Homo sapiens: one gene and its partner. The protein of the gene in region 1 interacts with the protein of each later gene in a pairwise test. Each region holds a gene or a part of one and is shown on either strand. Other genes may lie near its edges.

Evidence for each region.
Region 2: the proteins of TTF2 (region 1) and NVL interact in a two-hybrid assay, tested with the Homo sapiens proteins (one study listed by BioGRID and IntAct).

Annotation. Positions count from the first base shown.
Region 1 is NC_000001.11:117,105,187-117,108,118, forward strand, and holds the end of TTF2 (transcription termination factor 2), read left to right. Parts: 3' UTR 1-2,267; downstream 2,268-2,932. UniProt on the Homo sapiens protein: DsDNA-dependent ATPase which acts as a transcription termination factor by coupling ATP hydrolysis with removal of RNA polymerase II from the DNA template. May contribute to mitotic transcription repression. May also be involved in pre-mRNA splicing.
Region 2 is NC_000001.11:224,326,932-224,334,906, forward strand, and holds the start of NVL (nuclear valosin-containing protein-like), read right to left. Parts: upstream 3,242-7,975; 5' UTR 3,197-3,241; coding exon 3,140-3,196; intron 1-3,139. UniProt on the Homo sapiens protein: Participates in the assembly of the telomerase holoenzyme and effecting of telomerase activity via its interaction with TERT. Involved in both early and late stages of the pre-rRNA processing pathways.

The DNA of each region.
Region 1 (2,932 bases):
GTCTGGGAATATGAGAACCAGCAGCAGCATGGGTGCAGCTGAGAACCAGATGGTGAACATCTGTCTCCAAAGTGCAACATTCCTGAGCACCGGATTTATAAGGCATTTCTTACTCGACAGAATTGACTTCATGGAAGGTATGTAGTTTGACTTTGCCTTAGCCATGTTGATCAAATAGGAGTATTGTGCATGCCGCAGCTAGACAGAGTCCTGGGCCCTTTAAAAACCTTGTCAGTGACTCCCATTGCAGGCCCAGCGCAGTGGTTCACACCTGTAATCCCAGCATTTGGGAGGCTGAGGCAGGCAGATCACTTGAGGCCAAGAGTTCGAGACCAGACTGGCCAACATGGCAAAACCTCCTCTCTACTAAAAATACAAAAGTTAGCCAGGCGTGATGTTGGGTGCCTGTAATTGCAGCTACTCGGGAGGCTGAGGCAGGAGAATCACTTGAATCCAGGAGGCGGAGGTTACAGTGAGCTGAGATCATACCACTGCACTCCAGCCTGGGCCACAGAGAAAGAACGGTGATTCTTTCTAGCAGAAATTAGCAGAGTAAGTGTTTTTGGAACAATTGCTAATGAAAAGAAGGAAAAACAGAAAAAAAAAATTTTCTGTTTATGGGAGGTGACTTATTTCTCTATCAATCCTGTGAGTGATTTAGCATGGCAATTCATGAACACTGAGTTGTTTCCTTGCTCTGATTGTCTGTTGCTCAATGAAATGGCTTTTAGCAGGGCTCAAAGGTGAAGCCAGATTCTCCTGCACTAATAGGATAAGCATGGAGACACCAGTGTTCAGTGTGGCCTCTGGTTGTCTGAAATTTTGCTGTCAACTCTAATACCTTGAAAGAATTAGGTTTCCAAAGTGGGATATTGTGCTGCTGTTTGTGATATAGCATCTAGACTTAGGAAAGGGCAGGAACAATTTAAAAGCACATCTGTAGGCACAAAGAGAATTATAATAGAAATTCAGAATTCCTAGGCATATGACCTAGACTAAAATGTCTTCATAACTACAAATGAAATCAGGGTCATTTATAGTACAAACTACCACAGAAGTCAGTAGTTAGGGGATGGAGATAGATATGAAAAAAAAAAAAAGCAAACCCAGCCTAACTCCCAGGGAGGGAAGAGGGGCGACAGATATGCAGCTACACAATGTTTTTACTATCTTGAGTTCTTTTTACCCAGATTCCATAGCTAAATCCAGATGTATTAATAGGTAGAGACTACTTCAGAAAGGATGAGACTATTTTCTTGCTTAATTATCCACACAGTAATTCAGAAATGTATATTGAACACTTTTTATATGCCAGGCACTGCTGGGCACTGGAAATATAAAAGTAAGCAAAAATGAAAAACTATCCTGTCCTCCTGAGGCTTAGCATCTAAGGGAGACAGGCATTAGTCAACCCCGTGTGGCTGTGAATCAGCCATGATGCTGAGTGCTACAAGAGAGGACTGTGCGGCTGGGAGGGCTTATAACAGGATTTGACCTAGTTAGGGAAGATCTGAGGAAGTGATGAAAGAATGGAAATCAATATGTAAGAGCTCACAAGTCAGAGTGAGATGTTTCTTCCTATACTGCCTGCTTCTAATGAGCATCCACTTCATTGAACCACCTCTTCATTGAGCCAAACCTACCATACAGGGATACATTCTCTGGAGGAAAGTTGAGCAACTATTGCATTTGGGACATTAGAGTATGGGTGGGCTGACAGGTATGTGTATGTTTATTATCCAAGACAGCCAAGGTGTTTATCCTGTTACAACATCCCAGAGGACAGAGGCTCTTATTTGTGACTCTTTTTTCTTACCTGTAACACCAGAGGCATAACGTACATCATAATGCTGCATCTTGTTGACGCTTCAATGCTCACAATTCAAAGGTGATTTCTGAAGCACTTTGTTACACTGGGGACAGCTCCTAAATCCTCCCACTCTTTTTTTGCCTCACCTTGGAGTCTTGGGCTCTGTTGATCACTGACTCTGCCAGGTCTTTCAGCAGGCAAGACAGCTCAGTTAAATTGAGTTTGGACTCCACTGTAGTGCATGCATGAGACAGCACCCCCAATCCCCAACACCCACACACAAACTTTAAATATTTGTAACAGAATTGTTACCATTAATATTGCTTAAAGGCTAACACATTAGCCAGAACCTAGATGTCTTCTGGAAATTTTTTATTGCAATGTTACTTCATCTACATAAAGTTGTCCAATCACTGAAACCTCCAACTGAAATAAATGGTAAGCTTTTTGTTCTCAATTCTGAAATCAGATTCATTAAAAGGCACATGGGGATAGATGATATAATACAACAGGCTTCTTCATGGGAAGCAGTTCCCTAGATGTATGAGGTAATTGGAAAATTCAAGGCTGGTCTCTCAGGTGCATATAATTTATCCAACAGACTCGAGATAAGGCTGATTTTTTTTCCAAGTGGTATTTGTTTAAATGACAAATACTGAGGTTCGGGAGAAGGGAAGTCTGGCTTATAAAAACAGATACCAAGGAGATCCAAACTAAAAATTCTACCAATTAGATCTTTATTCACTGATCATAATATTAAGTCTCTACTATGTGCCAGGAACTGTCCTACATCGGGACAGTATGGTAGTTTAAAAATATCCCTGCCCTCATAGAGCTTACAATCTAATATGAGAGGACAGACAACAAACAGAATATATACATGTTGGCCTGTAATCCCAGCACTTCGGGAGGCTGAGATGGCCAGGAGTTTGAGACCAGCCTGGGCAACATGGCAAAACCCCATCTCTACAAAAAATGCAAAAAATTCACCAGGCATGGGGTCGGGGGGGTGGTGTGCCTATGGTTCCACCTACTCCAGGGGCTGAGGTGGGAGAATCACTTGAACCTCGGGAGGCAGAGGCTGCAGTGAGCCGAGATTGTGCCACTGCACTCCAGCCTGGG
Region 2 (7,975 bases), about 110 Mb from region 1:
AGGAGTTTGAGACCACCCTGGGCAACAAAGTTTGACCTCATCTCTACAAAAAAATTAAAAAGTTGGTTGGATGTGGTGGCTTGTGCTTATACTCCCAGCATTTTGGGAGGCCAAGGTGGGAGATCGCTTAAGCCCAGACTTAGAGGTTGCAGTGAGCTATGATCGAGCCACTGCACTCCAGCCTGGATAACAGAACGAGACCTTATCTCAAAAATAAATACATAAATAAGCCCGGGCGTGGTGGCTCACACCCGTAATCCCAGCACTTTGAGAGGCCAAGGCGGGAGGATTGCTTCAGTCCAGGTGTTCGAGACCAGCCTGGGCAAGGTGGTAAGATCTCATCTCTACAAAAAATTTTAAAATTAGCCAGACATGGTGGTGCATACCTGTGGTCCCAGCTACATGGGAGGCTGAGGTGGGAGAATCACTTGACCCCACGAGTTTGAGATGGCAGTGAGCAGTGTTCACACCACTGCACTCCAGCCTGGGTGACAGAGCTAGACCCAGTCTCAAAAATAAAAAATTAAAATTAAATTAAATATATAGCTAAGTGAAAATTTATTTAAAATATTGTGTAAGACTATCTTCAGGCTATGTGTGTAAGGTGTATATGAAACATAAATAAACTTCATGTTTAACTTGGGTCCCATCCCCAAATATCTCATTATGTATATGCAAACATTCCAAAACCTGAAAAAAATCAATCTGAAACATTTTTTGGTCTTAAGCATTTAGAATAAGGGATATTCATTTGTACTTTTATAATGAACCAAAGTGAAAGCTATAGAGGAAAACTGATAATGTCAAACGCTGAAAAGAGTCAAGTGTGAGGACAGAGAAGAGGCCACTAGATCCAGTAATTAGGAGTCACTGCTCAGAAACCTCAATAAAGTGAAGGAGCAAGTTGTGGGACGCGGGAACATCCAGAGGAAGAGTAATTCAGAGTGACTGAACAACGAGAACAAAGGTCCTGTGCTTGGCATGTTTGAGAAGGTCTGTGTGGCTGGGACAGGAGAGGAAAAGTAAACTAGGACAACAGAGGCCAGAATATGCAGGGCTTTTCAGACTGGGTTTTACTCTAGATGTCTGTGACTCCACTGAAAGGTTTTGAGCAGGGCTATGGCAAGCTCTGATTTCCCCCCCCTTTTTTTTAGTTATACTTTAAGTTCTGGGATACATGTGCAGAACATGCGGGTTTGTTACATAGGTATACAGGTGCCATGGTGGTTTCCTGCACCCATCAACCCGTCATCTACATTAGGTATTTTTCCTAATGCTATCCCTCCCCTAGCCCGATTTTTCCCTTTAAAAGGATGTCTTGGCCACGCCTGTAATCCCAGCACTTTGGGAGGCTGAGGCGGGCAGATCACCTGAGGTCAGGAGTTCGAGACTAGCCTGGCCAACATGGTGAAATCCCATCCCTACTAAAAATACAAAAAGTAGCCAGGCGTGATGGCATGCACTTGTAATCCCACGTACTCGGGAGGCTGAGGCAGGAGAATCACTTGAACCCAGGAGGCAGAGGTTGCAGTGAGCAGAAAAAAAAAAAAAAATTAGATGTCTCTGGCTGCTCTGTGGGGAATAGGCTTTAGGTAAAAGCAGAATCAGAGAGATCAGTTAGGAGGCTATTGTAATAGTATAAGGTAGAGATGATGGTTTGGACTAAGATGGTTACAGGGAAAGACAGTAAGAAGTACTTGGAATATATTTTGAAAGTAAAGCCAACCAGGCTGTTGACAGATGGTATACAGGAAATGAAAGACTCAGAATGATCCTTAAGGTTTTTGGCCTTAACAACAGGACGAACGGTAGTATCATTTACTGAGATACAGAACACTAAGAAAGGGCAGATTTGAAGGAAGAAAAAAATCACAAATTCCACTTGGCCATTTTAATTTGGAGATATGCTGACTAGGCAGCTGGATATATCAATCTGTACTTCAAGATAAAATCTGGACTGGAGATATAAAGTTAGCAGTCATAAATATACAGAGGCCAGTGCAGCAGCTTGCACCGGTAATCCCAGCACTTTGGGAGGCTGAGGCCCGATCGCTTGAGCCCAGGAGTTAGAGACCAGCCAGAGTAACATAGTGGAACCCCGTCTCTACAAATAATAATAATAATAATAAATTAGCCAGGTGTGGTGGTGCACACCTGTAGTCCCAGCTACTGGGGAGGCTGAGGAGGGAGGATCACTTGAGTCAGGGAGGCCGAGGGTGCAGTGAGTTATGATTGTGCCCATAAACAGCCACTGCACTCTAGCCTGGGCAACAGAGCGAGACTATGTCTCAGAAAAATAAAAATAAAATGAAATAAATACATAGATAATAGAGTATGTAGATACTACTCAAAGGTTATTACACTAAATGAGATCACATAGGAAGTATGGATAGATAAGAAAGGTGTATGAGGAAAGAGGAGGAAGGGGAGGTAAGAGAACAGTGGCACAGAGCACTTCCAACATTTACAAGTTGGTAGGAAAAGATGGGTCCGAAAAGGAGATTGTTTAGGGGCTGGTGAAGTGAAAGAAAAACAAGGAGAATGTGTAGCTCACAAATTCCTAAGTGAAGAAAATTCTCTCCCACCTTTTAACTCAGACTGCTTGCTTACATTCTGAGGTATTTGCCACACACTGCTTTTTACTGATGGTCATGAAAATGAGAAAACCGTAGGCAAAGTGCCTGTTACTGTTGCCAGACCCATGTTATCTCGTTTTAGTGTGTAAGTTCCTTGAGAACGGAAATTAACATATTATTTATGCCACCCCTTCTCAAGGACCTCTTACAATGCGAGCGTTTGAAGACCATTCCTGTGCTAACTTCACAAGCCAAAGAGGTTAAAATTCAAAGGCTACCTCCACTCTACTGAATGATCTGCGCTGAAGACGACCAGACAACTTGGGCAGCCCTACCAAGCTGCACCCTCCCACCATCCCCGGCTTCTCCCTGAGACTCCGCACCAACGTGGGTAGGGAAGGCCCCGGCAGCACCAACTAAGGAGAAACAGACGCACGCCCAGACCCAGACTGGGGAAAGAAGACTAGTTGAGTTCCACCTGGATGCCACCCGACAAAAGGGGAGTGGCACCCTGGGGCAGCGATCGGGGCCCTTGGCGAGGCCAAGCGGTGCAGAATACACACCTGGATGACTCGCTGCTTGAGTTTATTATCCACGAACCCTGCAGGTCTGGGCTTCATCGCGTCGGTCTTCCAAGCCACAGCTCGGACCGCCAGCTCCTAGTCAACCGGGGGCCTCGTAGGGGTTGCCCGCCGCGATCGCCGGGCCAGTTGCACCTGAAATGCGCCCCTCCTGGGGCCTAGCCCGCGCCGTTTCCGTCAGAATAAAAGTAATGCGAATGAAGGGGAAAAAATTCCGAGGAGAGGGAGAAGACTTGAAAACCTCAGGGAGTTTCTAGGGGCCTTATTTTGCAGGCCTGCCCAGTGGACCCTGGAAGATTAGGACCCCTTTGAACGCGCTCAACTTTATTGGTTCCCCGCCGGGCGAACCAGGTGGGAGGAAGTTCCTACCCCGGCGCGGTGTGCGGAGACGCTGTCAACGGCGTCCTCTGGAAAACTTGGTTTGCTTTCCTCAGGCGTTCCAGCCACACCTCATTCTGATACAAAGCTAGTCTTCGCAAAACCAGCCACGGTAGATACTTGGAGTGATAAAATCAGGGTAAAAACACACCACCAGCCGCTGCTTGCTTTCCCACGTAGTTATCTTACATTTTAGAGGCCCGACAAAAGGGCTAGGTGAAAAAGAAAAGGAAGGACGGATTTATCCAGATAACTAAGTCATTTGTTACTTTTAGAACTCGTTTGACTTACGCTGTTATCATCGGCAGGTAATTTGTTGAATATATCCAGTGCAGGACTCCTTGGCCCAGAATTTTATCAAACGTTTGTATTTGCCCCAAGAAGTTTATCCTGCACTTAGGGAGACACAAAGGGACAGTTACCAAGCATTAAAAAAAAAATGCTGGCTTTAGTTTCTGTCTTCTTGTTTATTTCAACCGTGTTTTGAGTATTCTTATTTCAGGTCCTCCTTGGCTTATGACAAGGTTAAGTGCAGTGTATTAAGGGGCAGAGGGGAGAGAAAATGGAATTAAGAGAAGGGCGTGAGGCCGGGCACGGTGGCTCACACCTGTAATCCCAGCACTTTGGGAGGCCGAGGCGGGCAGATCACTTGAGGTCAGGAGTTCACGACCAGCCTGGCCAACATGGTGAAACCTTGTCTCTACTAAAAATATAAAAATTAGCACTGAATTAAGTATTAGATTTCCCACTCAAAATATTGATCCGTTTGGTTGCAACTTCATTTCCTACTTCTTCACTATGTGTAGTTTTATTTTTTATTTTTTTAGTTGTAAAATATAAGAACATTCACCATCTTAAACATTTTAAAGTGTGCAGTTTAGTGATAATACATTCATAATATGCAACCATCACTGCCATCTAGTTCCAGAACTCTTTTCATCTTGTACAACTAAAACTCTATACTAATTAAAAAATAACTCCCCATTCCTCCCTCCCCCCAGCCCCTGGCAACTACCATTCTACTTACTGTCTTTATGATTTTGACTACACTAACTTCCTCATATAAGTGGAATCTTCCAGTATTTGACTTTTGTGACTGGCTTGTTTCTTAGCTTAATGCCCTCATATAGCATGTGTTAGAATTTCCTTCTTTCTTTTCTTTTTTTTTTTTTTTTTTTTTTGATACAGAGTCTTGCTCTGTTGCCCAGGCTGGAGTGCAGTGGCGCAATCTCAGCTCACTGCAACCTTCGCCTCCTGGGTTCAAGAGATTCTACCACCTCAGCCTCCCAAGTAGTTGGGACTACAGGTGTGTACCACCACACCCGGCTAATTTTTTGTATTTTTAGTAGAAATGGCGTTTTGCCATGTTGGCCAGGCTGATCTCCAACTCCTGACCTGAGGTGATCCACCTGCCTTGGCCTCCCAAAGTGCTGGGATTACAGGTATAAGCCACCGCACCTGGCCTTTCCTTCACTTTTAAGGCTGAATAAAATTTGGCTCTTTTGTTGCCATTCTGCCTTTTGCCATGGGATGACACAGCAAGAAGGCCCTCACCAAATAACAACTCCTTGATATTGGACTTTCCAGCCTTCTTGCATTCATTCAACAAGTGTTTATTGAGTGCCTACCAGTTTCAGTCTCTGCTCTGCGCTTTAGGCTTGTGGGGAAAAGTGGAAGAATTATAACTAACTTTTTATAACATTTAAAAAATTTGATTAGGTATTTATGTGCTTGATTAAATGTTAGCAAAGATTCCCTACAGCATATAGTACAAATGTAGTCAATGCTCAGTAATTTTTAAAATGAAATGTAATTCTGTGCATGCCAAATGTCCAACATAGAATGAAAACACACTGAGGCCAGGCATGGTGGCTCATGCCTATACTACCAGCACTTTGGGAGGCAGAGGCAGGTGGATCACCTGAGGTCAGGAGTTCAAGACTAGCCTGACCAATGTGGTGAAACCCTGTCTCTATTAAAAATACAAAATTATCCGGGTGTGGTGGCCCATGCCTGTAATCCTAGCTACTTGGGAGGCTGAGGCAGGAGAATCACTTGAACCTGGGAGGCAGAGGTTGCAGTGAGCTGAGATTGCGCCATTGCACTCTAGCCTGGGCAACAAGAGCAAAACTCCATCTCAAAAAAACGAACAAATAAACAACCACATTGAAAGGCCTAGTAGTATCATGACATGTACTAGGCAATATAGTTTATTAGTCTATAATTTGTCATAGAATACTATCCTACACTTAGGGTTGACTTCATGGGTATGTGACCTCTGCAGTCACACAGGGCCCTGTGCTCAGAAGGGCCCCACAGGTGGTTTAATGCTGTACTGTTGCCATCTTGAAATGCTTTCTGAATAAGCTGTCCCTTATTTTCATTTTGCACTGGGTCTTACAAATTATGTAACCAGCCATTCATATGTAAACTTGAAGTACTCTAGAATGCTGCCTTCTTCTTCTTTTTCTTCTTTTTTTTTTTAGGTGGAGTCTCACTATATTGCCAGGCTAGAGTGCAGTGGTACGATCTTGGCTCACTGTAACCTCCGCCTCCCGGGTTCAAGCGATTCTTCTGCCTCAGCCTCCCAAGTAGCTGGGACTCCAGGTGCATGCCACCATGCCCAGCTAATTTTTGTATTTTTAGTAGAGACAGGGTTTCACCATATTGGCCAGGCTCGTCTTGAACTCCTGACCTCGTGATTCGCCTGTCTCGGCCTCTCAAAGTGCTGGGATTACAGGCATGAGCCACTGCACCCAGCCACCTCCTTCTTAAAGGCAGGGAATGTGTTGTTCATCTCACTACTGCTTCAGGTGCAGAAGGCAATAATTGAAAGTGAATTAATACTAGATGATAATATGCTTGAACATTTCTCGTTGGAATTATTTCATCAATTATTGCCCTGAAGACCATTTTACATTGATTCCAATGTTTGGATTTACAATATCATGCATCAAAACCAAAAAGATTACTGAACAGTAACCTAAGTGCATATACACTTTAAGCACTTCCTTTTTTAATTGAAGCATCCTCCATTCTTTGGTGGTGTAACCCCACCTAGTGGTAGTGGCGTATTTTATCTTTTGTCTTTCACACTTTCTCCTAAACCTCATACAGTATTTCACAAGCAAACAGCTTCTGGTCTAATTGTGCTTCATAACTAGGGTGATTTATGTCCAGATTTGCTCAGGACAGTCCTGATTTTTGATTCAGCAAAATTATTGCTAGTATCCCCTTTGTGGAAATACATGAAGACCAAATACATAAGAAGAGGTGAAGACTATTTGTTCAGAGTTTGCTATAACAAGGGAGTCAGCCACCATCACTTGTGTTTTGGCAGAGCCTCAAAGACAGGCAGAGGAGTGGGAAAACTTTATGGTGGGGAATAGGGGAAGGCTTCAGGTACGCCCTAACTGAAGACTGTTGTCATAGGGAAGCTATAGGTGGGCTAAATAGAACTAGCAGAGCATCCTATGTGTTTGGTTGGGATGCACAGTTGGTTTTCTTTTTGGTCCTATGTTGACAGCAGGTCCAAAAATTAGAAAAGCTATCATTTATTAATAAAGTTTTTGCCATCTGGGGCCGTTTGTTACAGGGGTTGTTGCTGGGTTCCTGGATTGTTTGCTAGTGATAGTGATCTAACTTCCTACATGTCTGACTTGTAGATGATATATTGGTTTTCTGGTCTGGTTGCTGCAGATTGTGAGTCAGAGTTCTATTTTTGCATTTGGTCTGGCCATTTTTCATTCACATGTTCAGTGTCTTCCTTTTATCTCTCAAAAAGGTTCTAGTTTGGACAATGTATGACCACTCTATGTATAGTAGGAACATGGAGAAAAAGATGAAGTTTGCATGTCAGAGGATCCTTACTGAGATGCAAAAATGAGGCTTCCTGCTTGCTGGGAGCTGGAGACTGAGTTCTGTTCTGTTATGTTCTTTTCTTTTCTTTTTCGAGACAGGGTTATATGGTTTGGCTATGTCGCCACTCAAATCTCATCTTGAATTGTGGCTTCCATAATTCTTATGAATTGTAGGAAGGACCTAGTGGCAGATAAATGAATCATGGGGGTGGTTTCCCCCATACTGTTCTGGTGGTAGTGAATAAGTCTCATGAGATCTGATGATTTTATAAGGTGTTTCCTCTTTTGCTTGGCTCTAATTCTGTCTCATCTGCCATCATGTAAGACGTGCCTTTACTCTTCCACCATGATTGTGAGACCTCCCCAGCCACGAGGAACTATAGGTCCATTAAGTCTGTTTTTCTTTATAAATTACCCAGTCTTGGGTATGTCTTTATCAGCAGTGTGAAAATTGACTAATACAGAGCATCCCACTCTGTCGACCAGGCTAGAGTGCAGTGGCATGATTTCAGCTCACTGCAACCTCTGCTTCCCTGTTTTTTTTGTTTTTGTTTTTGTTTTTTTGAGATGTAGTCTTGCT